Linked DNA regions of Homo sapiens. The protein of the gene in region 1 interacts with the protein of each later gene in a biochemical or structural test. Each region holds a gene or a part of one and is shown on either strand. Other genes may lie near its edges.

What was found.
Region 2: the proteins of WWP1 (region 1) and ARRDC2 form a complex in vitro, tested with the Homo sapiens proteins (one study listed by BioGRID).
Region 3: the proteins of WWP1 (region 1) and WBP1 interact in a test that uses a peptide from one of them, tested with the Homo sapiens proteins (one study listed by BioGRID).
Region 4: the proteins of WWP1 (region 1) and RUNX1 form a complex in vitro, tested with the Homo sapiens proteins (one study listed by BioGRID).

The regions. Positions count from the first base shown.
Region 1 is NC_000008.11:86,337,722-86,345,564, forward strand, and holds the start of WWP1 (NEDD4-like E3 ubiquitin-protein ligase WWP1), read left to right. Parts: upstream 1-4,825; 5' UTR 4,826-5,209; exon of another isoform or gene 5,210-5,555; intron 5,556-5,868; exon of another isoform or gene 5,869-5,939; intron 5,940-6,551; exon of another isoform or gene 6,552-6,713; intron 6,714-7,843. UniProt on the Homo sapiens protein: E3 ubiquitin-protein ligase which accepts ubiquitin from an E2 ubiquitin-conjugating enzyme in the form of a thioester and then directly transfers the ubiquitin to targeted substrates.
Region 2 is NC_000019.10:18,011,160-18,014,624, reverse strand, and holds the end of ARRDC2 (arrestin domain-containing protein 2), read right to left. Parts: intron 1,713-3,465; coding exon 1,659-1,712; 3' UTR 523-1,658; downstream 1-522.
Region 3 is NC_000002.12:74,453,831-74,461,384, reverse strand, and holds WBP1 (WW domain-binding protein 1), read right to left. Parts: upstream 2,948-7,554; 5' UTR 2,783-2,947; coding exon 2,714-2,782; intron 1,743-2,713; coding exon 1,640-1,742; intron 1,513-1,639; coding exon 1,336-1,512; intron 1,165-1,335; coding exon 704-1,164; 3' UTR 504-703; downstream 1-503. Other genes in the region: MOGS (mannosyl-oligosaccharide glucosidase), read left to right, coding at 1-110; INO80B (INO80 complex subunit B), read right to left, coding at 3,521-4,051, 5,113-5,282, 5,449-5,567, 5,787-5,979, 6,211-6,268.
Region 4 is NC_000021.9:35,046,301-35,053,516, reverse strand, and holds the start of RUNX1 (runt-related transcription factor 1), read left to right. Parts: upstream 1-4,214; 5' UTR 4,215-4,349; exon of another isoform or gene 4,350-4,558; 5' UTR 4,559-4,617; coding exon 4,618-4,675; intron 4,676-7,216.

The DNA.
Region 1 (7,843 bases):
AAATGAGTAATGGAAGTGAAGCAAACCCCACCTCTTTCACAAGTACAGGTGAAATAGGAAACTTTTAAAGTGCAAGGGAAAATAGGTTGGGGCAGTTTCTCAGCTTCAGCATTAATGCCATTTGGACCTGATCATTCCTTGTTTTTTGAGTGGAGTGATGGGGCTGTCTTGTGCACTGTAGGATGTTTAGCACCCTCTGTCACATCTACCCACTAGATGCCAATGGAACATCCAACCTACCCCCATGAAAAATGTCGTAAGCCATTGCCAAAATCCCCTGGGATATGAAATGGTCCCAAGTTGAGAACAACAGGATTAGTGTATTTGTTATCTATTTCTGGATAGATATAAATTATCTCCCAAATTTAGTGACTTAAAACAATAAGCACTTATTTTACCGCTATAGTTTCTATGGGTTAAGCATTTGAGAGTAACTGAGTTGGGTGGTTCTGGTTCAAGGTCTTTGATGAGGCTGCAGTCAAGACGCAATCATCTGAAGGCTTGACTTAGGCTGAAGGATCCACTTCTAAGATGTCTCACTCACGTGGTGATGGCAGCAGGCCTCAGACTCTGGTGGTTGTTGGCAGGATGTCTCAGTTCCTTGCCATGTGGGTCTCTACACAGGGCAGCTTCCTGTGTCTTTGCCATATGGCAACTGAGAATGATCTGAAAGAGAGTGGGAGGGGCTCCATGATGCCTTTTTATGGCCTGGTCTTGGAAGTGACACACTGTCACTTTTGCTATATCTGTTAACAACAAGTCACTAATTACAGCCTACATTCCTTTTGGAAGAGAATTAGGCCTCACTGGTTTATTTTTTTTTAATTTTATTTATTTATTTTTTTTTGAGAGGGAGTCTTGCTCTGTTGCCTAGGATGGAGTGAAGTGGTGCCATCTTGGCTCACTGCAACCTCTGCCTCCTGGTTTTTTGTTTTTATTATTTTTGAGACAGAGTCTTGCTCTCACTCTGTTACCCAGGCTGGAGTGCAATCATGATGCACTCATGACTCACTGCAGCCTTGACTTCCTGGGCTCAAGTGACCCTCCCACCTCAGCCTCCAGAGTAGCTGGGATTACAGGTGCACACCACCATGCCCAGATAAGTTTTTGATTTTTAGTAGAGATGAGGTCTCACTACGTTGTCCATGCTGGTCTCGAACCCCTGGGCTCAAGCAATCTTCTCACATTGGCCTCCCAAAGTCCTGGGATTACAGGCATGAACCACTGTGCCTGGCTAGGCTTCACTTTCTGAGGGCAGAAGTATCAAAATATTTGTAGACATATTTTATTAAGAAATTTAAAAAAATTATTCTTGGAAATATAATACAGACAGGGTGTATTAGTCTGTTCTCATGCTGCTAATAGAGACATACTTGAGACTGGGTAATTTATAAAGGAAAGAGGTTTAATTGACTCATAGTTCAGCATGGCTGGGGAGGCCTCAGGAAACTTACAATCATGGCAGAAGGGGAGGCAAGCACAACCTTCTTCACATGGTGGCAGCAAGGAGAAGTGCTGAGCAAAAGGGGGAAAAGCCCCTTATAAAACCATCAGATCTTGTGAGAACTCACTCACTATCACCAGAACAGCATGAGAGTAACCGCCCCCATGATTAAATTACCTGACACTGGGTCCCTCCCACAACACGTGGATATTATGGGAACTACAATTCAAGACGAGATTAGGGTTAGGGATGGTGGCTCATGCCTGTAATCACAGCACTTTGGGAGGTCGAGGCAGGAGGGTCACTTGAGATCAGGAGTTCAAGATCAGCCTGGCCAACATGGTGAAACCCCGTCTCTACTAAAAATTAAAAAAAAAATTAGCTAGGTGTGGTAGCATGTGCCTGTAATCCCAACTACTCGGGAGGCTGAGGCAAGAGAATCACTTGAACCCAGGAGTGGAGGTTGCAGTGAGCCAAGATCACACCACTGCACTCCAGCCTGGATGACAGAGCAATACTCCATCTCAAAAAAAAAAAAAAAAAGATGAGATTTGCGTGGGGACACAGCCAAACCATATCACAGGGTTTGTCATGTTGGTCAGGCCGGTATCAAACACCTGGCCTTAAGTGATCCACCTGCTTTGGGCTCTCAAAGTGTTGGGATTACAGGTGTGAGCCACAGTGCCCGGCCTGTAGACCTATTTTAAAACCACTACAGTTAGAGAACAATTTTTTAAACAAATGGTTTGGGGGAATACCATGAGCTATTTTTAAAGGAATAAAAGTTAGATTATCATTGCAAAATAAATCCAAGAAAATTAAATTATTTAATGAAAAAAGTAAAATAGTCAAACAAGTAGAAAAAAGTAAAGACAGATGAATTATATGATCTCAGGATGGGAAAGATGTATGAAGTAAAAAACAATGGAAGAATACAAAAATGGAAAAGATCAATAGTTTTACAAAGGACTAATATCTACATTGTGTGAAGCACCCTTTTGTGAAATACCTCAGTAAGAAAATGGACAAAGGACAAACAATAAGCTACCATACATACACATATGAAAACATACCATGATGATTTGGGCACATGGAAGAAGGACAATCACATACTGTCATGTAGTGTTGTGGGAAAATTGATAACCATTATGACAATCATTTCTTGATTATGTGCCATGCTCATGTGTTAAGTAGCTCTATGCGTGTTATTTATAGCAATTTATATATATTTTTTAATACAACATGTGGAAGCACTATATTAATTTTCTAGTTGAGACACAATTAGATTAAGCAATTGGCCAAATCTCTCAGCTCATAGGCAGCAGGAGGGTCAGGTTATCCATTAGGCACAGTAGACACAGTGCCTCAGGCTTATAACACTTTCGGGGGCCCATAAAAATGTTTTAATTTCTTTTAAAATCAGAAGGCAAAAAATTGAATATTTAGGTCAAAGAAAATATTTTAATGTATAATGTTAATATCTTTTTCTTCATACCAATGCAGTAATAAAATATATTTTGTAGTATTATTTTATGGAAGATGAGGCCCACACAGGTATAAGCACCTAGGGCCTGTGAAAGTCAGAATGTGGCACTGGGTGGCAGAGCTGTGTTTTGATGCTGGGCGATGTGATACCTGAGCCTATGCTCTTTCTGGAAGGTAGTTGCCAATATGTTTCAAAAGGGCTAAACTTGTTCATACTTTTTTATTACTTTTAATAATTTATCTAAGACAGTTAATAAGGACATGAACAATGGTTATGGAATACTATTTATAATATTGTTCATTTGAAACCAAACAGTCAATAACAAAAGGCTGGTTCAATATTGGGTGTCAGCTTGAGGACTAGGTGAGTACTAAGAGCTTCTGAACGGGGAGGAAATTGAGCAATGAGGGGAGCTGAAAGTGAGACACAGAGCAGGAAGAGGAGGCCTGCATGCATTCTGGAGAAGGAGTCCAGATCCCTGCTGGGGAATACCTACGGAATTTCTGAGGACGTGTTTGTAAGCACATTATTGCATCTATTTAAAGGGACCAGACAGCAAAAGCAAAAAGATGAAGAAAATCTTAGTACATGTTTAAAGCAGAGATGAGTGGGCACATATGGGGCACTGTGAAGAGTTTTTCATAACAGGAGAGATAGAGCATGTGAGCATCAAAGGAACCTTGAATATCACGTTAATCTTTGTCAGGAGAGCTCCGAAAAGCCAAAGAATGATTTTAAGCAGTGGAATGACACAGATGTATATTTTCGAATGATCTTTGTGGATATAATGTGCACCAATTTCAACTATGAAGCCAGAGGACAAGAACTAATGCATGGAGGTAGGCGGGAATGTGCATTGTTCAGTCAAGAGATACTTGTTGAATTCTGTACACACTCATGAAGTGTTGGGGTTGTTTTTGGTACACAGTTCTTTCAAAAAGCTCAGTTAAAATGGAAGGGGAGAGAGAACCAGAGGTTTTAAAATCAAGGGAAAATTTAGGACCTAATCTTAAAACGTGATTATGCTGAGGAGTTGTAGGCAGTGGAGAGGGTGAAGTTAAAGATGTGCCAAGGACCGCCCACAGTGGGGAGCAGGCAGTGGAGAGGAGCAGGGACATCTAGCCTCCGAGATAGAAGGAAAACTAGTAAGTCTGGGTGTGGACGTAGATATAATCTATGGGGGTTGGTCAGGTGGTTGGGCAAAAGCTGTAGAAATCCATGCCTGAAGGCTTCTGCTTCTCTGAAGTAGAAACCGGGTCACCTGGTAAGCAATGTGGTCCCACTGACTTCTATTTGCACATTGGCCTTTCTTCTAAAAGCAATACACATAACCAACAGTACTTTTCTAAACTAGTTGACTTTTCTGTAAAATGCAGACAGTAGACACTACTTTGTCAGATTGTTGTGTGCGTTAATTGTGCGGACACGTATACTCGGTCAATAAGTATCTGCTTTATCACCGGGCTGATGTGAGTGAGGACTAGGTGGTGGGGCTTCCACAGATGAACGTTTTGATTAATAAAAAATGGACTGAAAGTCTTCGGGTATGACCAATGGCTAAATGCAATTATTTACTCTTGCAATGTGTTCGAGGTCACCCAGCTAGGTCAAGGAGTATTTATGGACAGCCTACTTTTGCCCCCGGACCTTAAGAAGTCCTGCTCCGGGATCAGCCGCCGACCGGAAAGTCAAATTAGCAGTGCCCAGCGCGAGCTTAGAGCAGCCTCTTCCCAAATCTCAGCGGCGGCCCCGCCCCTTCCACACGTTCAGGCCCCGCCCCTCCCTACTATTGGCTGTCCGTCCCCCTCCGCTAGACTGCTCGGAAGACCCGGAGGAGCGGAGTTTTCCTAAGGCAGCATCCGAGCGCCCTCGCTGCGCATGCTCGGGGGAGGCGGATTCCGGGTCCGGAGTTGGAGGCTTTGGGCGGCCGCGGCGTAGCGCGCGGTGCCGGGGCCGGCGGGGAGGCGCGCGCTTAGGGCGCGGCGCCGGCGACGCGGCCACGCGGCGCGCTCCCGAGGAAGGGAGGTGTGGGGTCGGCTGGGGGTGGCGCGTGGACGGGGTGGGGGTGGGGGGAGGGTCGGGTGTCGGCGAGCTCCGCGTGCGGGTTCCGAGTGGCTGCTGGCGGCCTGGGCTGCCGGGGCCGACGCCTGGGTGGCTGCTGCCGCCGCGCCTGCTGCGAGATGGCGATCTTGGGCGCGGAAGGGTGAGGGCGCCCGCCGCAGGAGGAGGTGCCGCTGCCGTGGCCGCCCGGCTGCCGGGAGCCGACAGCTTCGCGCCGGGTAAGGACGGCGCGGCGCGGGGCTGGGGGTGCGAATGGGCAGGGCGGGAGGGGGCACGGGCCCTGAGCCTTGGCCGCGGTGCTGGGCGCCCGGCGCCGTCCGCCCCCGGGCTGGACCCTCCTAGGACCCGTCGGGGGACGGTCCGCCCTACCTTGGCTACCTTCTCCAGCCCGGGAGTCGGGAGTTTTCTGGGGTGGGGTCACGGGTCTTGCCCGGAGTTCGCCCTGGCAAAGGCCTGTGCCAGTGATCCTGGAGCGGAGCGAAGTGTTTCCGTGACTCTGCAGCCGCAGTTCTTAGGCTTCCTTAGCCTTCTCTTCGCCTTCCTCCACCTTTCCCTAACACCTCCCTGAAAACACAAATACATGGACTCATTGCCCGTTCCCTGACTTTCACCCCAATTTCAGCGTTGCAAACCAAGGACTCCAGCTTTGGAACGTCTTTTTCTGACATGTTTTTATCACTCTCCGTTCTTCACCGACTCTGCAGCTCCCCATCCCCCGCCCCCCCAGCGCAACCCCCACCTCCACCTTTTGTGACCTGGTAGGTTCCAGTGACCTTGCAGATTTTACCAGTCCTTATCTTGTCTGTGACTTACAGACTCTCCTTTCATCTTCGTGTTCTTTTTTTAAAAAAATTTAATTTTGTAGTTTGCTCCTTACCTTTACGACCTTTAAATGATCAGTCTTGTTCACAGTCCTTTCTTTGCTCTGCCGATTTGGAGTTTTCTCTGCTGTGGTAAATATATGAAACCTTCATTACCAAAGAAGAGTAGTGTCTGTTATAATTTTGACATTTTTACTCTTTCAGAATAAAATATTTTCCAGGGGCTTGATTTTGCCTTCTTTTTCTATTTGATAAGTTTAACAAATTTTTTTCTGTGTGTGTGTAGGTTAATGTGGAACAAGATTTTGTGTTTCTGCTTTAAAATGTTACTGGTAATAGTAGTGGGAAAAAAAATCATGTCCAAAATTATCTTTGTTTTCCCCGTTTGGTGTTTTTACCTGAAATAGTTGGTTTACAGTTACCTGCATTTTTTTTTTTTAACAAGAGTTCATGTTTATGTGTAAATCCACTTTACCTGCCTCACCAAATCTGTGTGTATTATACAAGCAAAATGCACCTTTTAAAGAAGAAAGTCGTTCTTTTATTGTGTGACTTGTTTTTAGCCATCAAGTAGTAAATTAGCTGCAACTAGAAATGATCATTTTTCATAAATGGTTAGTATTTTAAAAAATGGAAAGTGTAGTGGCCAAGTATTGGGAGCTACTCAGATTGAGAATTGTAAAGTATGTGGAATAGTTCTTTGGGACATAGCTTATCAACATTTTCAGATAGTTCTTACCTTAAAATGTGAAACTGCTGGTAAGATCTACATCAGGGTTTTGAAAAGCAATAATTATGAGCTACCGGCATAATACAGGATGTCGCAGATAAAGTTTCTGCCTTCAAAGAGATGGTAATCTTTGCTGTTTACCCCACGGTGGCTGAAATTTCCTTTACTTCCTTGTACAGTTGTTAAGCATTTACTGCATAATTGTGGGAGGTATTTTGGGAAATACAAAGATGAACCGATTAGCAATTTCTGCCTTCACACTAATTAGGTAGATAGTGCTATACACAAATGCCTTATTTGTCTTTTAATATATAAGTTTCATAAATGGTACCAAAATCCTCTCAGAAGTCAACTTCAAAGAGAGTAGAGCTCAGATCTTACTTGGCAAGGTAGGGATAAGAGGGTTAGTTTGTAGAGCTCCTGGCTTCTGAAATCGTGGTTTTGAAGGACGATTATGACTTTGGATAGGCAGGAAAGGTAATCCTAGCAGAGAGGTATCTCTAAGAGAGCACAGAGTTCCTGTTTGGGGAAAGGCAGGTAATTATGTTTGGGTGGAACATAAACTTATTTGTACCAGGATAAAGGGTGATAAAACTTGAAGTAAAAATTTGGACCAGTTTATGGGTTGTTTTTAATGCCAGACTTATGACCTTGGATTTACCCGGTGGTGGGGCTTCCACAGATGATTTTGAATTGGGAGTGAAACAATTTGAACACTTTGTTTCAGAAGGATTAGTGGGATAGAGGTCTGTAGTGTGAACTGAGGTAGGGAGACCCTGGAGGTAGAAAGACCTCCCAGTTGTTGTAGTCATGGATAGTGAGGATCTGAGCTGTGGTGCACGCGAATGGAAAGGAAGAAAGGAAGTCGAATAGCCAAAATTTGATGAGAGGGCAAATGAAAGTAAAAATAACTGATTCTGATCCAGGTTGGTTGGGAGAACAGTGGTACCATTTTGAGCAAGATCATGAAGCTTTACCCTCAGCATATGTGTGCTACTTTACAACTTTTTGGAGATTACTAATTCTTGGTAAAATGCTGGCCTGGAAAATTTCCATATGCGCCTATGCTTTGTGGATATAATTTTAGGGGAGTCCATGGAACACCTGAAAGTCATCCATGACACTCATCTCAGAATTTCTTGGAGCTTTTTTTATTTTCGAGGCAGGATTTCTTTCACTCCTGTCCCTGTGGCTGGAGTGCAGTGGCGCCTTCTGGGCTCATTGCAACCTCCGCCTCCCAGGCTCAAGAGATTCTCCTGCCTCAGTCTCCCGAATAGCTTGAACTACAGGCGCTTGCCACC
Region 2 (3,465 bases), on another chromosome or scaffold:
ACTTGGAGGCTGAGGCAGGAGAATCGCTTGAACCCAGGAGGTGGAGGTTGTAGTGAGCTGAGATCACACCACTACACTCTACACTATGCCTGAGCGACACAGCAAGACTCCTTCTGAAAAACAAAAACAAACAGAAAAAAACCCACAAAAACCAAACCTAGACTCAGATGACAGGATGTTCCCGTACTCAGGCGGCTCCTCCCAGCCCCAGCCCCCTGCTCCCCACTCTCTGAGGATAGAGTTCTCTGCTTGTCCTCCACTGTTCAGCCCCCGCCAGCCTCTGAGACTCCGATAGGCGGTGCAGGTATGGGGCCCAGGGCTCAGCTCCCACCCCAGCTCAGCCTCCTCATATGTCCTTGGACCAACCCCCTCCCAGTCCTGGGCCTCAGTTTCCCCTTCTCAATCATGAGCCCCTTTGCCTTCCTTGGCCAGGAATTTAGTCTCCAAGATAGTGACCAGGGATGGCAGTCCCAGTTCCCTCAGCAGCCAGATCGGGGGCGGAAATAAACCAAGAAGCCCGGATTCTTTCTCCACACGTTTACTTTTAAAAAATAATTGTACAAAACAGAATGAATTCTTAAGGCATATCAGAAATGCTGAGTCCCAGGCCGGGGCCCTGCCCCAGCCAGGGCTGGGACTCTGCAGTTGGGAGCTTGTCCAGCTGCCCCCTCTAATGCTTTTCTCCTCCAGGACACAGGGAGCCTCCGGAAGCACAGTAGTCCCCGTGTGTCACCTTAGGCTGACCTCTGTCCCCAGGGGTGACGTAATGCTGTCACTGTCTTGAATTCTTCATCGTTTAACAGGGAGCCCAGTGTTTTCACTTTGCACATTGGGTATCTGGTCTTGCCTGTCCTACCCTGAACCTGGGTTCCCTGGGCCATGTAACACCCAGGCAGCTCTGATGCCCCTGGGTACTTGGAGGAGCTCCCAGGAAGTCCAAGCCTGCGCCAGGAATCTCTGGCTTTCAAAGTCTTCAAAGGCTGGAGCGGCTGCCCCTGCCACCCACAGACTCCACATAGCTCTGACAACCTGCTTTCCTGAACGCCTCGTTCCTGGGTCCTTTCACCCACCAGACCTCACTGTGTGGCCTCAACTCTGAGGCACCTGCCCTCTGAACCCCCAGTTCTACAATAAACGGGGTGGATTCCAAACGTCACTCAGCTCTGACCTTCTCTGACCTTTATTCCTCATTCGTCTGCCTGCTGAGCTCCTATTCGTACTCCAAAGCCTCAGCTAAAATGCCCTTTCCGCAAGGACGCCTTCTCTGCTTCCTGTCTGGACTCTCACAGTTGCAGGTCTCTTCTTCTGGTTCTGTGATGCTGGAACTGTCTATGTCTGGCTCTGTTTCTCCCAGACTGAAGGCTCCTAGGGGATTCCAGCACCACCAATTGGCTGGGAAGACAGGTTATTAAACAGTCTCTCGGATACTGCACTGGGCATTCAATGCCTCACAAGGACAGCGGTCCAGGTAAGTCAGATTCCAGCCGGGCTCTTCCTCTGTCCCATGTGATATCCGAAAGGCCCCCGCCTCACTCTGAGACTTGGTTCCCCAACTTTGATGCAGTCGGGGAGGTCAGCCCTTGGTCCAGCCACTCCCCACAGTCATGGTGGCTGAAAGCTGGTGTGCAACCTTGTTCCTCGAGGGGTCCCTGTGCCGTTCAGCAAGTCATGCAGCGCGGCCTCATGTCCCCCAAGAGTGGGTTTGGATCCTCCTAAGAGAAATGTTCCCATTAAGCCTCAGAGAACACTGGAAACAGAAATTCAGAAATACCGCTCCCCATCTAGCCATCTCCCAACTCCCGCCCTTGACCAGGGATGAGGCCATCAGGAGGTGGTGTCTAGGGCAGACTGGGGTGCAAGGAGGGTTTTGGAGCTGAGTGTATACCGTCCCTTGGTATCCACAGGGGATTGGTTCCAGGAACCCCGTGGATACCAAAATCCACAGATGCTCAGGTCCCTGATATAAAATGGCATAATATTTGCGGATAATCTAAGCCCATCCTCCTGTGTACTTTATTTTTATTTCATTTTATTTTTCGAGACAGAGTCTCGCTTTGTCACCCAGGCTGGAATGCAGTGGCGCAATCTCGGCTCACTGCAACCTCTACCTCCTGGGTTCAAGCGATTCTCCTGCCTCAGCCTCGTGAGTAGCTGGGATCACAGGTGGATGCCACCACACCCAGCTAATTTTTGTATTTTTGGTAGAGACCTGGTTTCGCCATGTTGGCCAGGCTGGTCTCAAACTCCTGACCTCAAGTGATCTGCCCACCTCAGCCTCCCAAAGTGCTGGGATTACAGGCATGAGCCACTGCATCCAGCCCTCCCGTGTACTTTAAATCTCTTCTAGATTACCTATAATACTTTATGGCCAGGTGTGGTGGCTCACGCCTGTAATCCCAGCATTCTGGGAGGTCAAGGCAGGCAGATCACCTGAGGTCAGGAATTCTAGACCAGCCTGGCCAACATGGCAAAACCCCGTCTCTACTAAAAAATACAAAAATTAGCTGGGCATGGTGGTGGATGCCTGTAATCCCAGCTACTCGGGAGGCTAAGACAGGGAGAATTGCTTGAACCCGGGAGGTGGAGATTGCAGTGAGCCGAGATTGTGCCACTTCACTCCAGCCTAGGTGACACAGCAAGACTCCATCTCAAAAAAAAAAAAAAAAAAAAAATATATATATATATATATACACATATACACACACAAAATATAAATGCTATTTAATCACTGTTATACTGCATTATTACTATTAGTAGTAGTATTGAGATGAGGTCTTGTTTTGTCTCCCAGACTGGAGTATGTAGTAGCACAATCATTGCTCACTGCAGCCTCAAACTCCTGGGCTCAAGCGATCCTCCTGCCTCAGCCTCCCAATCATAGATGGGCTCCACCAAGCCTGGGTAATTTTGTATTATTTGCAGTAGAGATGGGGGTCTTGCTATGTTACCCAGGTTGGTCTTATACTTCTGGCCTCAAGCAGTCCTCCCATCTTGGCCTCTCAAAGTGCTGGGATTACAGGCATGAGCCACCGCACCCAGCCTATCATATTTTTAATCTGTATTATCCATGTATGTATTTATTTTTCAAATGTCTCTGACCCATGTTTGGTTGAATCTGCAGATTCCAAACCAGCTAACGCAGAGGGCCGACTGTATGTAGCGAAATTCTGTCAACAATTAAAATCCTCTGCCAGCCGGGCACAGTGGCTGACGCCTGTAATCCCAGCACTTTGGGGAGGCCAAGATGGGAGGATCATTTGAGCCCAGGAGTTCAAGACCAGCCTGGGCAACACAGTGAGACCACATTTCTACAAAAAATACAAAAATTGGCCGGGCGTGGTAGCTCACGCATATAATCCCAGCACTTTGGGATGCCGAGGCAGGCCATCACCTGAGGTCAGGAGTTCAAGACCAGCCTGACCAACATGGTGAAACCCCGTCTCTACTAAAAATACAAAAATTAGC
Region 3 (7,554 bases), on another chromosome or scaffold:
CAGGCTTTCTTTGGGAGCAGTACAGTGACCGCGATGGGCGAGGCATGGGCTGCCGCCCTTTCCACGGCTGGACCAGCCTTGTCTTACTGGCCATGGCTGAAGACTACTGAAGGGAGGGAGAGGAGGGGAGCCAAGACACTCATGCCACTCTGGCTCTGAAGGGACAAAGGCTTCTGGCTTTTGCCCCCAGCCCCTTGGATACCAGTAATTCAAACCTTCCTCATTTCATCTCAGGTGTCTCCTTGCTGTCATCCCACATAGCCCTGGGGTGAATGTGAATCCAGAGTCTATTTTTCTAAATAAATTGGAAAAAACATTTTGAACTCTATTGCTTTTGCCAGATTTGCCTCACCAAGAGGCCTTAGGTCAGTCCAGGCCTCAGCACTGTCTGCTGTCCTCAGGGAAGGTGGGGTCAAGTGGCCATAACCTGTCCCCTTCAAACCCAGTCAGGTCAAGTGCAATGCAGTGAGTTGAGCTTTAGTCCACCCAAATCCACAAGTAGCTGGTTCACATCTCTTTAATGAGATCAAAGGCTCCTGTGTATGTCCTGCGGGGGTAAAGCTAGCACAGTCCCCCAATACTGCCCCTCTCCAGCCCTTTCAGGCAGATTCTAGGTAGGCAGGGAGGGGCCAAAGGAACGCAAGGAGTTGGGACTAGGGCTGTTTCTGGTGGGCAAGTAACCCATCCACCCTCTCAAAACTACTTATGGGATGTCCCCTTCACTGGAAGACAGCCCCATGGGAAAGATCTGCGGTACAGACTCTGGGGGTAGTGCACACGGGGAGTAGTCCTCCAGATCTGGCAGGGTGGCACTAACCCTCACCTCCTTGACTGGCTCACCCTCACCGGAGGCAGGACAAGGGCAGAGCTCAATACCGGAGTCGCCAGTTAAACGGCGATAGCGGCAGGAGGGGGGTGTGGAGGCAGGGGTCACCCCTGCCCCGGGCTCACCCTCCTGATGAGGGGGGGCACTCTGGTGGGAGGAAACACCTTCCACATTTGTTCCTTCAAAGTGGGCAGGGCAGCTGGATGAGGAGGAACAGCAGGTTTGTTCACTGGAAGCAGTCAAGGGGCGGCCTGGGGCCACAGTATAAGGGGGGGGTGGTGTGCCTGGGCGGTGAACCACATCCTCGTAGGCTGGGGGCTTGAAGGTGCTGAGGAAGCCTGCAGGGGAGAAAATTGGCATGATTGGTTGAAGACAACCAGGTATAGGGTGCTAGTTTTTATATTAGGGAAAAATACTTTGAAATGTGTGGAAAAGGGAATGTGAGACGATTTGGGGTTCTGGTTTGGGGAGGGCCACTGGTAGCTGACCCAGGGCATCAAGTCACTCACGAAGGTCAAGCAGTGAACCGGTAGGGAAAGGACCAGCCCCATGGCATGCCCCATGATAGGCCAACAAGTTGATTTCACGCTGCCGCTGCTGTTGTTGCAGCCTGAGTTTAGCTCGTCGGTGGCGGAAGGCGCAACAGCAGCTAAAGAGGATGAGGACAGTCCAGAGCAGCCAGAACCCTGCAAGAGGCAAGGAGGGAGCAACTCAGGCATCTTTCATGCAGAGAAGGGGCCCTGAAGGCCGAAATTCTGAGGTCCAAGGGAGGGTGGACACAGGGACCTGGAAATAGCCCTCTTGGAGACTTACACCAGAGCTCATAGTAGTAGGTGCAGCAGCCAGTCTCCCCGCAGCAGTGACCACTCTCACAGAGGTAGGGCTGGTTGTTCACTCCTGGGCACAGCTCTCGAAGCTGCGGGCAAGGAGGCACTTAGAACTAAGGGGGATTCCAGCCCAGGGCACTGTCCACCCCCACCTCCTGCATGCACATACACAATCCCACCCTGTGAACCAAGTTCAGCTTGGAGAGATGGGGGAAGTGGAGGATGCTGAGAGGAGTGTTGAAATATCTGAAGGGCTGTCAACGTGGAAGAGGATTTGGAATAGCAAGAATCAGTCTAGAGAACAAGACAAAAGTGTGGACATACAAAGAGGGAGATTTCAGCTCTGCATATATGAGACTTCCTTCACACTCAAGCCTCACTCTCCCCAACCCCCCTACCCCCATCCCCTCGGTGCTTTCTGTTAAGGGAGTGTTTTGGCAGAAGCCAGAAGACAGTCTGAGATAATCTCAGTCTCAGACAACGGGTAGCGGTAGGTCATTTCCAAAGCAAGTTGCTTTCATTATCCTGCGCGGTTCACTACCCCCCACCCGCAACTGGATCTTTCCACCCCTGGGCCTCAGGCTCCCTAGGATAGAGGAGGGGCAGTGTGAGACCCAGAGCAGTGCTCCCAACCAGATGGGATTGCTGTGGATGATAAAGGATGGCATCCAGGGCGCGAGTCTGGGTTCCAGCTCTTCTCCAAATTGCTCCCTCAAGAGAAGACGCTGCCGGACTCTGTTGTGACAATAGGCACATAGAAAAAGATCACAAATAACTGTTGCAAGACAGAGGGAGCCTCCCTGGGACCTCACTATGCCTCTGGTCACTGGAGAGCCACCGCAAGCTTCCACTGCAGCCATGGGATGGGTTCTATGAGGCTACAGGCAAAGTCAGCTGCATCTACGTTACAAAGTTTAGACAAAGAGTGGAAGAGACATGTTTAGGAACTTCACAGTACCTTTGGCTCCGTGAGTTCCTCCCCCACCCCCAAAAGGAAGGGACAAGGAAAGGGGAAAGAGACAAATGGCTGTCGTGATAGGTTTTGGAGCTATTGGGATACCTGCTGTTGCGGCGCCCGAAGTGCCCCCCAGGCCTCCTCGCTGCCGTTCCCGCTGCTGGCCCGAGCCATACCTCCACCTACAGCCCCCTGAGGACCACAGCCTCCTCTACCGCCAGCCGCCCCGCCCCTGCCACCTCTGCTGCCACCGCCATGGTCCCTGCCCGGCCCATCTTCGCTGAGGCCACCATCACTCCGCGGCCGGAGCTTCCATCCGGGCAGAACTCCACCAACTAGGACTCAGATTGCTCTGCCCTACCAATCATCATCGTCCCTTGACGGACGGGCCAATAGGAACAGATCAGAGGTTTCTCCCTGTGACCAATCCACAGCAGCGCCTCCGCCGCTCACCCAGACAACAAGAGCTTGTACAGACAAAGAGTAGGTGAAGGTTCGACCCACGGCCCTGACTGACAGCGGCAATAGCCAATACAGACAACAGAACAGGCTCTGGCATATCAACCAACGAACAGCCGCCCCGAAGAGCAAGGTTGCCGCTGATTGGCTTGCGGTATGTTTTCGGAATGACGCCAAAGGCCGAAGCACGCCAGGTAATCCCGGCTGGAAGAGGCGGAGTCCCAAAAGTCGGTCCGCTGGTTTGCAGCCTGGTTTTTTGCGGTGGTTTCCAAGCCCCAGGCATCGACGCAAGCTCCGACAGGGGCAAAATACGTGTATACCGGAGACTGGTCTGCCCACAACATCCCACTCCCCCAGTTCTGTACAAGCCGAAGCACCGGATGTAATTTAATAGGGTGGGGAAGATACTCAAGAGCGGGCATGGGACGGGGCGCAGAGTCCGGGTTAAGGGCCTTACGTAGCCAAAAGGGGGGATCCAGGACCCTCGGGCCCCCCCAGCCGCATCTGCAGGTTGATGCGGTAGCACTGAAGACTACAGAGTGCCTGGCCTGTGCGGGAGCAAGCGTAGCGGCGCGGATGGGGACAGCCGGGGACAGAGCAGCGCGGCGGCGGGCCTGAGGGGGATGGCCGCTGAGACACTGCCGTGGGGGCGGGGACGCCAGGTGGGAAGGAAAGGGTGGAACCCTGTGCTCCGCTGCAGTAGCGCACCATGGGGGCCGGAGCCGCAGCCCGCCCTCCCCGCCGCTCGCCCCGTGCGCCCCCCCGGCCTCCCCGCCCACTGGTCGCCGCAGTCTTGGTGAGGCGCTCGATAGTCTGGTTCTTGTGCTCTTCTGCCCGCCGCGCCGCCTGGAGCCGCCGCTTCCGCGCCCGCTCCTCGCGCTTCAGCAGCATCTCCTCTGTGAGGGCGGGAGGTGGGCAGCCCTCAGCTACAGGCAGCGGCAGCATAGGGGAAGGTTGACTCCGCGCCTTCTGGAGCAGAGCTCGCTAGGGAGAGACAGAGACGGGGTGCTGTCTGAAAATGGAGGAAGATGGAGAGGCGAGGTCGGCCAGATCGGGGGAGGGGAAAGAAGGGACATGGAAGGCAGGGTCTTGAGCAGTGCAGGCCTTCGGAGGCGGGATATTAATTAATGAGCACCCTCTCCAGGACACCTTCCATAGGTTCCTCTTCATAAATACTGCCTCCTCCCAGATCTCCTGACATTTAGCTTTAGGTCCTTATCTCTCAAGGGGAGAAGCATCAGTAATGTTACCTGCCTGACCTGTGCACCAAAACTGTACCAGCTTTCCCAGAGGTCTGTTGTTATTTTTAATCTTATCTCAATAGAGAGTATCAGGTGGATAACTGCTCAAGCCAAAATCCCAGGCTTAGCCTTGATATATTTTCTCTCCATTCCCCTCCCCACAAGTATCTACTTCCAAAATATAGCCATAATTCATCTGATTTTCTCCATCTCCACCACTTTCGTCTTGGTTAAAGCAACCACTGCCTCTCAGCTGATTACTTCAACAGCTTCCTAGTTGTTCTCCATACTTCTATCTCTTGTCTCCACGAAGATTCATTCTCTACAAAGATGCCAAAGTAATCTATTGAAATGTAAACCAAGTATGTCACTTCTCTGCGTACAGCCCTTCAGTGGCTTGTCCACTTTTTCTTCTCCTTTGCTAGACATGTTCCAGTCTCAAGGTCTGTGCGCCTGCTGGTCTCTGCTCAAAAGCTCTTCTGGTATTGCAAATGTTATCTCTTCAAAGAAGCCTTCTCTAACTACCCTAATGTCTCTCTTCCATCATTTCTATCTGTTTGTTTACGCCACTTTCTATTTCATCACCCTTTTCTTTTTGTCATAAACCATATAGCTTTTTGAAATTATTTACTTATTTACTTCCCAGCCCCCCAACACACACACTAGAATACTAGCTCCAGGAGAACAGAAACTTTGTCTTTTCTCTACTATCGATATCCCCAATGCCACGCAAAGTGCGTGGGTCGTGGAGAGTTCTCAATACTGTATACATTTGGTGAGTGAATAAACAATGAACCAACATACCTGTCGAGCAGTAAGCAGCCGCTCATTGATCTCCTTCTTGAGGTCTCCATTGTCATCCAGCTCCCCCTTCTCCAGGGCATCCAGCCACCTCTGTTCCTCCTCTTCCTCCTGACCCCCTAACCCTCCTGATAGGTCCCGAAGTGGAGAGGGAGAGAGATTACTGTCTTCATCTGGGAAGGAAGTTGGAGAAAGAAAAACAGAATTGTTCAGATGGGGCACCCTAATTTGGCTGAGTTAATACTGGGACATGGAAAATCCTAACCCATTTCAGAACCAACCTTCTTTCTTTAGGCGGGTATAATAAGAAACCCAGTTTCCCCACCTCCAGATCCTCACCCAGCCAGGCACGGTACTGCTCAAGGGGGACTCCTTCCATAGGTTCCTCTTCATTATCCACAACCATAAGGGGAGAGGGTGAGCGAGGCCCCTCTGGGATCACAGTGAAGGTAGGAACACTGCAGAGAAGCAACACTACTCTTTAAAATGAGCAAGCGTCTCCTCCTCCTACTCCGTAGCTACACCCAACTTTCCCCACCCTCTTAGACTCTTGCTGCCTAAATCTGGACCCTGAAGTCACAGTGTCCATTCGGTCTTCTAGAAAGCCCAGTCGGCTTCTAACTACTATCTCTGCTCCTAAAGTTCCCCTTATAAAACTATGACCCTCTTGGCCTCACCTCTTGGTCCCCAGGACTTGTCCCCCAAGCTTGATTTTGAGTTTGAGCTGAGGCTTGGCAGGGGACGGCTGCGTGGGCCCGGCGTCTTCTTCCTGATGGTGTTTCTTCTTGTGTTTCTTCTTGTGCTTCTTGTGTTTTTTCTTGTGCACTCCATGGCCATGGGCACCCGCCAGGCTCAACTCCAGGGCTTCTCCTGTGGAAGGAAAGCCTGTCGACAGTGTTTGGCCGGAGGGTGGCAGGGGAAGCCCTGAATAACCTAAGCCCCTACTGGATCCCACCCTTCCCGCAGTACTCGCTGTTACCATAACAACAGCACCGCCTTTCTCCTTGCCACCTGTGGCCGAAGTACCCTGGACTCTCCGAGGAGCAAGAACGGGACTTCTTTTCTAACACGACCTAAATTGCTTGATCTATTCGCGCTTACCCGGCTCAGGGGCCTCCATAGCCCCAGAGGTGCTCCCACGCCGCCACAGCTTACTCATGAGGTCCTGCGAGGAAAGGGGACTAGAAATGGTTGGGACACACGCAGACACGCCTTTTCCGCCCCGCGGAAAAACTGGAGCCAGCAAAACAACCAGTTACTTCCGGTTCATGGCAACCATCCTTGTGCGGGGCACGCTTCGCGTCCAAAATCGTCCCTGAGAAACGAGGATCCTTCCAACGAACGTTCCGGTCCCTCTGAGGTCGGGACAGCCCAAATGGGCAGGGCTTTCCCCTGGCTCCGCCTCCCCACGCTAGCTTTCAGAACTCAGCGCGGATGAGTCAATTATTGAACACAAGTTTGGTGAATGTATACACTAGACCAAGTGCGGGAAGCTAGTCTAAGAGGATGCAAAGATGAATATGAACACCGCCCCTGTCCTTGAGGAACTCACAGTTGGGTGGAGGAATACATAAACTATATTGATGACAAAATGGCCGAAATGGTTAAACAGCACGAGTGCCCTAAGAGCAGATGCAGTTTAGGTATTTAAACTTCAATTTTCATAAGTAGGGAAATGAATAAATGAATTACGGTGCAGCTGTACAATGCGGAACACCATATTGCTAAGAAAAGTTGAGTTGTAAGTAATTAATGAGATTGACACAGAATTTAAACAATCTAAGTGTCCTGATGAATTGGTGTATCCATACAGTGGGATGTTAAGCAGCTTGGAAAAGAAATGAGGCGCCCCAGAAGGCTATCTAGGAAATTGGTAAGAGTCATTTGCTGATGAGCATCTAGAGAACAAGGGTGGATGGCGACCTATTTTTTTATGATTATACCCTCTTGTGCCTTTTGAATTTTGTATAAAACGTGTATATTTTACCTCATTTTAAAAAAGACATAAAAACAGGTAGGTTTGTATGTGCTGATACACGAAATAAGAAAAGTAAATTTCCCATCCTGGCTAATACGATGAAACCCCGTCTCTACTAAAAATACAAAAAAAAAAAAAAAAATTAGCCGGCGTGATGGCACGCGCCTGTAGTCCCAGCTACTCGGGAGGCTGAGGCAGGAGAATCGCTTGAACCCGGGAGGTGGAGGTCGCAGTGAGCCGAGATCGCGCCACTGCACTCCAGCCTGGTCGACAGAGCGGGACTCCGTCTCAAAAAAAAGAAAAAAAAAAAAAAGTAAATTTCAAGATTATGTGATCTGATTTTTAAAAGCATAATATACTAGCAAATACATAGAAAAAATTGAGGAATGTATACCTGTTAATGTTGGTTAACTGTAGAAGTTGGGGTTGAGGAACTTTCACTATTTAGGTATGTAATGTATTTTCTT
Region 4 (7,216 bases), on another chromosome or scaffold:
TAGGTGAAAACTGAGAGTCTGGTGCCCCCAGAGGAAAAAGCCTTCTGTTTATATACACATGGCCACCAGCTAGGCAGATGGAGCACAGGGAGAGCCTCCCTACATTGTGTGTCAAACCTCAGACTGTAAACTTGACCCAAACACGGCACTTGAGATGAGAGGTCCGAGTGACAATCCAAGAAAATGCTACCTTAGAGGACGTGGGCCTTGCCTCTTGTGGGTTTCTGCTGTCTAGAAACATCCAGGGCTTACAAAATTATGTCAGAGCAACAAAGTAGAAAAGTTTCAGAAAGCTCAAAGGAAGAAAAAGACATCTCAAAGAATGCAAACACCATGTTATTATTTCTCTACTAAATTCCAATAGATGCAAGGCTTTCCTCAGCAATGTTTCTCAAACTTTAATGTGTATAGAATCACCCGAGGAACTGTAAAAATACAGATTCTCATTCAGTAGGCCTGGGATACAGCCCGCAATGCAGAGTCTCAACAAGTTCCTGGGTGCCATCGACACTGCTCACCTGCAGTCTGCAAGCAGAGGAGGAAGCAGTTGAAACTCTTTCATTTGAAATAATTCTCCCTAGCTGCTCTTCATATCATTACATAACATTCAAGTGGCAGGTTGGTTTCAATGTCTGCCTTTTTTCTTTCTTTTTTCCTTTTGAAATCATATTTCCCCAACAATACCTCTTCATCTAGGAAAGGTTAAGAAGTAAATACTGAGGCCAGGCGCGGTGGCTCCCGCCTGTAATCCCAGCACTTTGGGAGGCCGAGGTGGGTGGATCACGAGGTCAGAAGATCAAGACCATCCTGGCTAACACGGTGAAACCCCGTCTCTACTAAAGATACAAAAAATTAGCCGGGCGTGGTGACGAGCACCTGTAGTCCCAGCTACTCGGGAGGCTGAGGCAGGAGAATGGCGTGAACCTGGGAGGCGGAGCTTGCAGTGAGCTGAGATCGCACCACTGCACTCCAGCCTGGGCGACAGAGCAAGACTGTGTCTCAAAAAAAATAAAGTCTTGGGTAGCTTAAATTTGAATTGCACCTTTATCTAAAGAAGTGAGAGGCCTGTGCGGAAGAGAGATGTGTCCTGTGTGGGCACCATCATGAGTGTCCAGGAAAGAACATCTTTAATAGCTGGGCTTCTAGGGCTCCCTAGCTGTCTCAAACCATTGGATTTGCCAAAAGCAGGTTATAGTCATCCCATGAAGCTTTGATGTCTACGTCCCAATTTAAAAATCATCCCTGACCTCACTGTCAGCATAGCATGGAAGTTTCTGGATAGGACATCTGTTAGAAAACAGATTTAGAAAATAAGGAAAATCCACGCTACATAGAGAAAATTCAGTAGCATTGTCCTCCTGGGATTTTAGACTCCATCCAATTTGGGTGGTCCATCTCTGCCTCCATTTTCTGGCCAGAGAATCTACTTTATAATAGACATGTGGAGTTCAGAGATAGCATGCGGCAATCATGTAATGAATATCCCTAACAGAGGGTGCTTTGATTGGATTGGACTGCACACAGAAGTCTATACATTAATTACAGGGTTATGCAGGTAAACATCTGTCAACCCTTTCTAGTATTTTCATAGGGCCATTAAAAAAGACACCTGAGCATTTTCTCCCCACCCCGCCCCCCCACCCATGGTGGCATTTAGAAGCTGCAGCCAATATGAGCGAGAATGAAAACTGTCATCCAATTCCTTGGCAAAGCCACAGTCCACTGCAGACTCTTGGGTACAATCCCCAAGCCAGAAACCCAGGGTCTGAGTCACTTGCAGGAACTAGGACAGAGGGTGTGGGTCAATACACAAACTTAAAGAGTCCTAAACCGTTCTAGTTAAGTTAGGATTAAGTATTTCTCCAGGCGGTTCATTGATGACAGACGTGCCCTTTTGTCTTGGGCTCCTAGGGAAGTGGTAAGGCCAAGTTCACCAGCAGCTGGCTGAGGCTTTACTTATTGTCATGACCTGGAGGGTGCCCAGAAAAGCTCCAACTGTTGCCTCACCAAGCTGCGAAGTTATGCTGCGGCTGCCGTGGCTGTTAACCCCGCCCAGGAAGGCCGTGCAGGGCCAGCGTGCAGGCCTTTGTATTCTGCCCCCTGGTGCCCTGTTGAAACCTCAGTCCCGAAGATGACAGCGTATAGTGAGGCTTCAACGAGCCCCAGCCTTAGAGTGTCTTTACACTCTAACCTGTCCTACAAAGACCCCACTGGAAGAAATAGATATCTGGCTAGAGCTAGGCCCAAAGAGAAAAGTTGAGAATTCAGGCCGTTCACTGCCTCATCCAAACCCTTCTCCTAAGCATCTGGACACCTAAGGCTAAAAGCATCTGGGGAGTTTCTAAAATTAAATCTCCCAAGGATATTCTGTATGGCCCCTTGAATTGCTAAGTCATTATTAAGTGTGAGTCGACTCTGCAGTGGCAGCTGCACATTACAGCCCTCGGCTCTTAGGGCCCTTCCAGGGAATATTAAGTGTGGGAGAGAAAAATGAACCTGGTTTGGGGTTCAACTCAGGCTTGACTTTATTAGGGAGGGTAACAACACAGGCCCATTATGTTCATTATGTTCACAGGGGATTTGCACTGAGAAGCAATATGAAACACGCATCACATTTAAAGATTCACGAGCCTCATAAAAGAGATGTAGCACTATTATTCTTTTTTAGATGTTAGCAGTGTCAACATGTGGCCAGCTAACTTCTCACAAGTGTAAGAGAAAGCGGTCTGTTGAGTTTCAATTCCTGCTTTAGTCAAAACAGGAGTAAGTAAAAATTGTGTCTGTTCCTTTTGAAAGACTTGTGCCATGGAAGCTACTATCGTTGTGGGTCTTTGTGTGTGTGAAATTAAGTGGATGAGGGAAAACCGAGGGAGTGTTGTGGGAGTTCAGCCTTTCTGAAGTGCCTGTGCTGGCTACTGCAGCTTAGAATCCAGGACTGGCATTTACAACCCATCATCACACAGGTTCTCTTGACCCTATGTGTCGAAATTTCACGTGCGCAGAGTGCTATGGCGGATGTAGGCAGAGCAGAGCCAAATGAATAAGGTAGTAAATCAGGAAAATAAGCCTTTCTTCATCTTGGAACTACAAAACAAAATGACGTTTTAGTTGTCAGCAGGTAAAGCCAGTGGGGCCGGAAAATGAAATACGTGTGACCACAGTGGTTTGCCCACTTACAAAATTATCCTGTTTTTAGCATCTTCAAACAGGCATGTCTTTCTAAGGTAGAGGACGCGCTATATAATATTCATTAGTCAGCCCCAGGAGAAGTGTCTCCTCCTGGTTCCCCTTCTATTGTGGCATCCTCATGTGCTCAAAGTGTAGTTTTACCTACAGGTGTAAATTAGCCTATTGATTTGAATTGAACTAGAGAAAGGCAATACAGGGAGCTTTCCCAAGTGACAATACAAATAAACATCTGCAGAGTAACCACTGCTTTGTCCCAAATACAGAAATTCTCTCTGCTTTGTTTTCCTTTAGCTTCCTAATTTGTGTGTGTGTGTGTGTGTGTGTGTGTGTGTGTGTGTGTGTTAAGACTGTACTATGATTTTATCTCTTTACTGAAAGAGATACATACTAAAGTTGTCCATTTAGGGGGAATAAAACCACATAATTTTGGTTTCATTAAAACAGTCCTTTTATTTCAAAAGTAAAATTCTTTCCCTTTCCCAGGCTTTAAAATACCTGTGAGTTGCCAGCCCGTTGTAGGGGTCAGACTCTCACCAAAACATTTCTTTTTATTTATTTTTCCCTTTTATAGTTTCACTTATGCCATGATAGACGTTACCAAGGACTTAACTCTCCCGGAGCTGATGCCTAGCATTTTAAATGATGGGATCCACATCCTGTCGGAGCAGCGGCTTGATGCCAGCGTTGAATTACTATTGAATAAGCAGCAATGAAATCTTTATCAAAATAATCAGTAGTTCCAAAAACCACAAATAACAACAGGAGCCGAGTTGTACTAAATCAGCAAAGACCATTGAGATATAATAAGTGACTGAGTCACTTTTTTCTACATCCCCCCCTCTTGCAAAGTCTACTCGGCTATTTTCTTGCACAGCCTGGGGGAGGGCAGGTGGAGGGAAGGAAGGGCATTGCTCAGAAAAGAAAAAAAAAAATTGACATCACTTAAGTCACATGATTGGCAAGAACCAATTGAGATGGGCTGTGGAAAGGGGAACAGTTAAATTTGTAATTTGGGTTGTGTGAAAACTTCTTTGGGCCTCATAAACAACCACAGAACCACAAGTTGGGTAGCCTGGCAGTGTCAGAAGTCTGAACCCAGCATAGTGGTCAGCAGGCAGGACGAATCACACTGAATGCAAACCACAGGGTTTCGCAGCGTGGTGAGCATCACCAACCCACAGCCAAGGCGGCGCTGGCTTTTTTTTTTTTTTTAATCTTTAACAATTTGAATATTTGTTTTTACAAAGGTGCATTTTTTAATAGGGCTTGGGGAGTCCCAGAGGTATCCAGCAGAGGGGAGAAGAAAGAGAGATGTAGGGCTAGAGGGGTGAGGCTGAAACAGTGACCTGTCTTGGTTTTCGCTCCGAAGGTAAAAGAAATCATTGAGTCCCCCGCCTTCAGAAGAGGGTGCATTTTCAGGAGGAAGCGATGGCTTCAGACAGCATATTTGAGTCATTTCCTTCGTACCCACAGTGCTTCATGAGAGGTGAGTACATGCTGGTCTTGTAATATCTACTTTTGCTCAGCTTTGCCTGTAATGAAATGGCAGCTTGTTTCACCTCGGTGCAGAGATGCCTCGGTGCCTGCCAGTTCCCTGTCTTGTTTGTGAGAGGAATTCAAACTGAGGCATATGATTACAAGTCTATTGGATTACTTACTAATCAGATGGAAGCTCTTCAGAAATGTTTTAATAAATACTTAGTTATGCTGTTGGAGTGTTCAGTCGGTGCGTGAGAACTTTGTCAAGTGCGAGTAAGTTGTGCTGGTCTTGTTTAAAGGCTTAGAGATTATGAAGCTTGCACGAAGCTCCCTGGGTTTTATTTTGCTGTCCCTTGCCCGGAATGCCTGTGTCTGAGTTATCCTTAACTCGGCATGCTGTGTGGCCCAGAATGCAGCCTGCCCTGGGGCTTAGCAGGCACATGCACAGAGCCAGCCAGGAGGGCTGGTGCCAGTGTGGGGCAGGAGGCGGAGGCTCTCAGATAGCCTTGCACCAGCCTGGGGACTTCAGGGCCAAAGTGGCAAGGCAGCTGTCTCTATAAGGCAGAGAGTACAGGAGACTGACAGACTTGGTTAGGTTAAAATCATCAGCATGGGGCTGTGCTGTGTTTTTCCTTGTAGCCTCAATGCAAAGAGACAACCAGCATCTTTCAAGAGAGAAAGGAAGCAAATTGTGGCATACCGAGGTCTCTCTGGAAAAGGGCAATAGAGAAGTTTCCCGAGTTAAGCATTCTCGCAGCTTAAGTCGTTAGATTACAGGCTTATGAATAGGAACAGCCAGGGTGGAAAACCTGTCTCCATTTTTGAAACCAGCCTCTTGAAATGGACAAAGCTGTGGTTGAGCTGTGAGTGTGTGAGTATGTGTGTGCATGTGCGTCTTGTGTATCTTTCGTGGTAAAAGAGGGCTGTGCTTAAACAAACAAAAATAATAACATAAAATGTCTCAAAGGCATTGCCGTGTGCGTCGGGGCACGCACTCTGACCAGTGCCTGCAAAGTGTATCTTGATGGTTTGGCAAAGCTGAGATGGAGTGGGCTGGGATGGGAGAATAATTAATTTTCTGGCTACAAACTCTCTTGAGCACCCAAATTGTATCTGTGACTCATTATTTATTCATACAGCTAAGTGAGCAGGGGAATGCAGAGGGCTTGCCGGCCACTTTATCACAGCAAATGCTATTGTGAATGCACGGGGCTGTATGTTTCCGGGTCCCTGAAATTAAAAAACTTGATGAGAGAGAGAGAGAGAGAGAGAGAGAGAGAGAGAGAGTGTGTGTGTGTGTGTGTGTGTGTGTGTGTGTGTGTGTGTGTGTGTGTTGGAGATGGCAAGAGAGAAGTTAAAGAGAAAGAGAAGAAAACAAGTCATTAACCAAGCTCAAGTTTCAAATTAAAGAGTTTTCAAGTGCTTCTTTACTGGCAGCAGAGGGAATTTTAGTGAAGTTGAATCATGCAGACGTGCGTTAGTCACTAGTCTTGCAGCGTCGTTTGGTTGGTAACACAGAGACACCGGCCACTGGTGAAAAGCTGCAAACGGCTCCCTGGCTGCATTTCCTCTGGGCTGCTAACAAGCAGAGGAAGCAATATTTGTATAGAATAACAGAAAAAAAAGATCTTCCTGGCTTTACTCTGCTTTCAGTACCCCCTCAGAACGTGTATTGTTTCCTATTTTATCAACTCAGGAAGGCAGATTCAGGAAATTTTTAAGCATTCCATTGAGCAATAGGTTGGGTTTCAGTGTGCAGTGCTGGCCCCTGGGGCTCTCCTTACTGGCCAACGGCAAAGATGGTGAGGGACACGCTGAGCTATGCAGACATCAGGAAATAGCAGGAGTCTGGCTATCTCCCGGACAAGCCCAGGGCTCCTGTGCCCGATGGACACTCAGCTGACCTGCGCTAGGTTAGGAACAAGGGTCGGTTAGCTTTCACGGAGGCAGTGTAGGGAGGGCCTGAGCTCGCACCAAGACTCAAAAGGGATCATCTGGAAAGGTTTTTCCACTCCTTCCTTTCAGTGAAAGGAACTCAGGGTTCTTTAGAATCTCTAATTTGGTAATATAATATTGAGATTTGATGTCAGAGGGCCAAGTGAAATCTTGGCAATTTCCTGGTTAATTTCATCCAAGTGATCCATCAACATAAAGGTTTAAATTGTCCAGGTTAACTGTCCACATCATTCACCCAAGCCGGAGAGGTAGCAAAATATCATTTCTTTTGATACCGTTTGGTCATCATCTTAGAGCTTGATGCTAGAAGAATCACCATCCCTGCCAACAAATGGCTCTCCCCCAGAGTTCTCAGCCTGTTGCCATAGCTGGGCCACTCGCAGTGGTCAATGCGGTCACTTCTGGCTGCCTATAATTTACAGCGTGTGTTCCCTCCCCAACGGCAACTGTGAGCCGAAAGGGAAGACAGCATCTTTGTTTTCTTCCTGGGATGGTACTTTATCAGTCCATGCAATTCTCACAGAAGGAAACCTGTAACTCATTTTTAGCCAGATACCCATGTGGAAATTGGGGGGAAAGAGAGGAGTGAAGC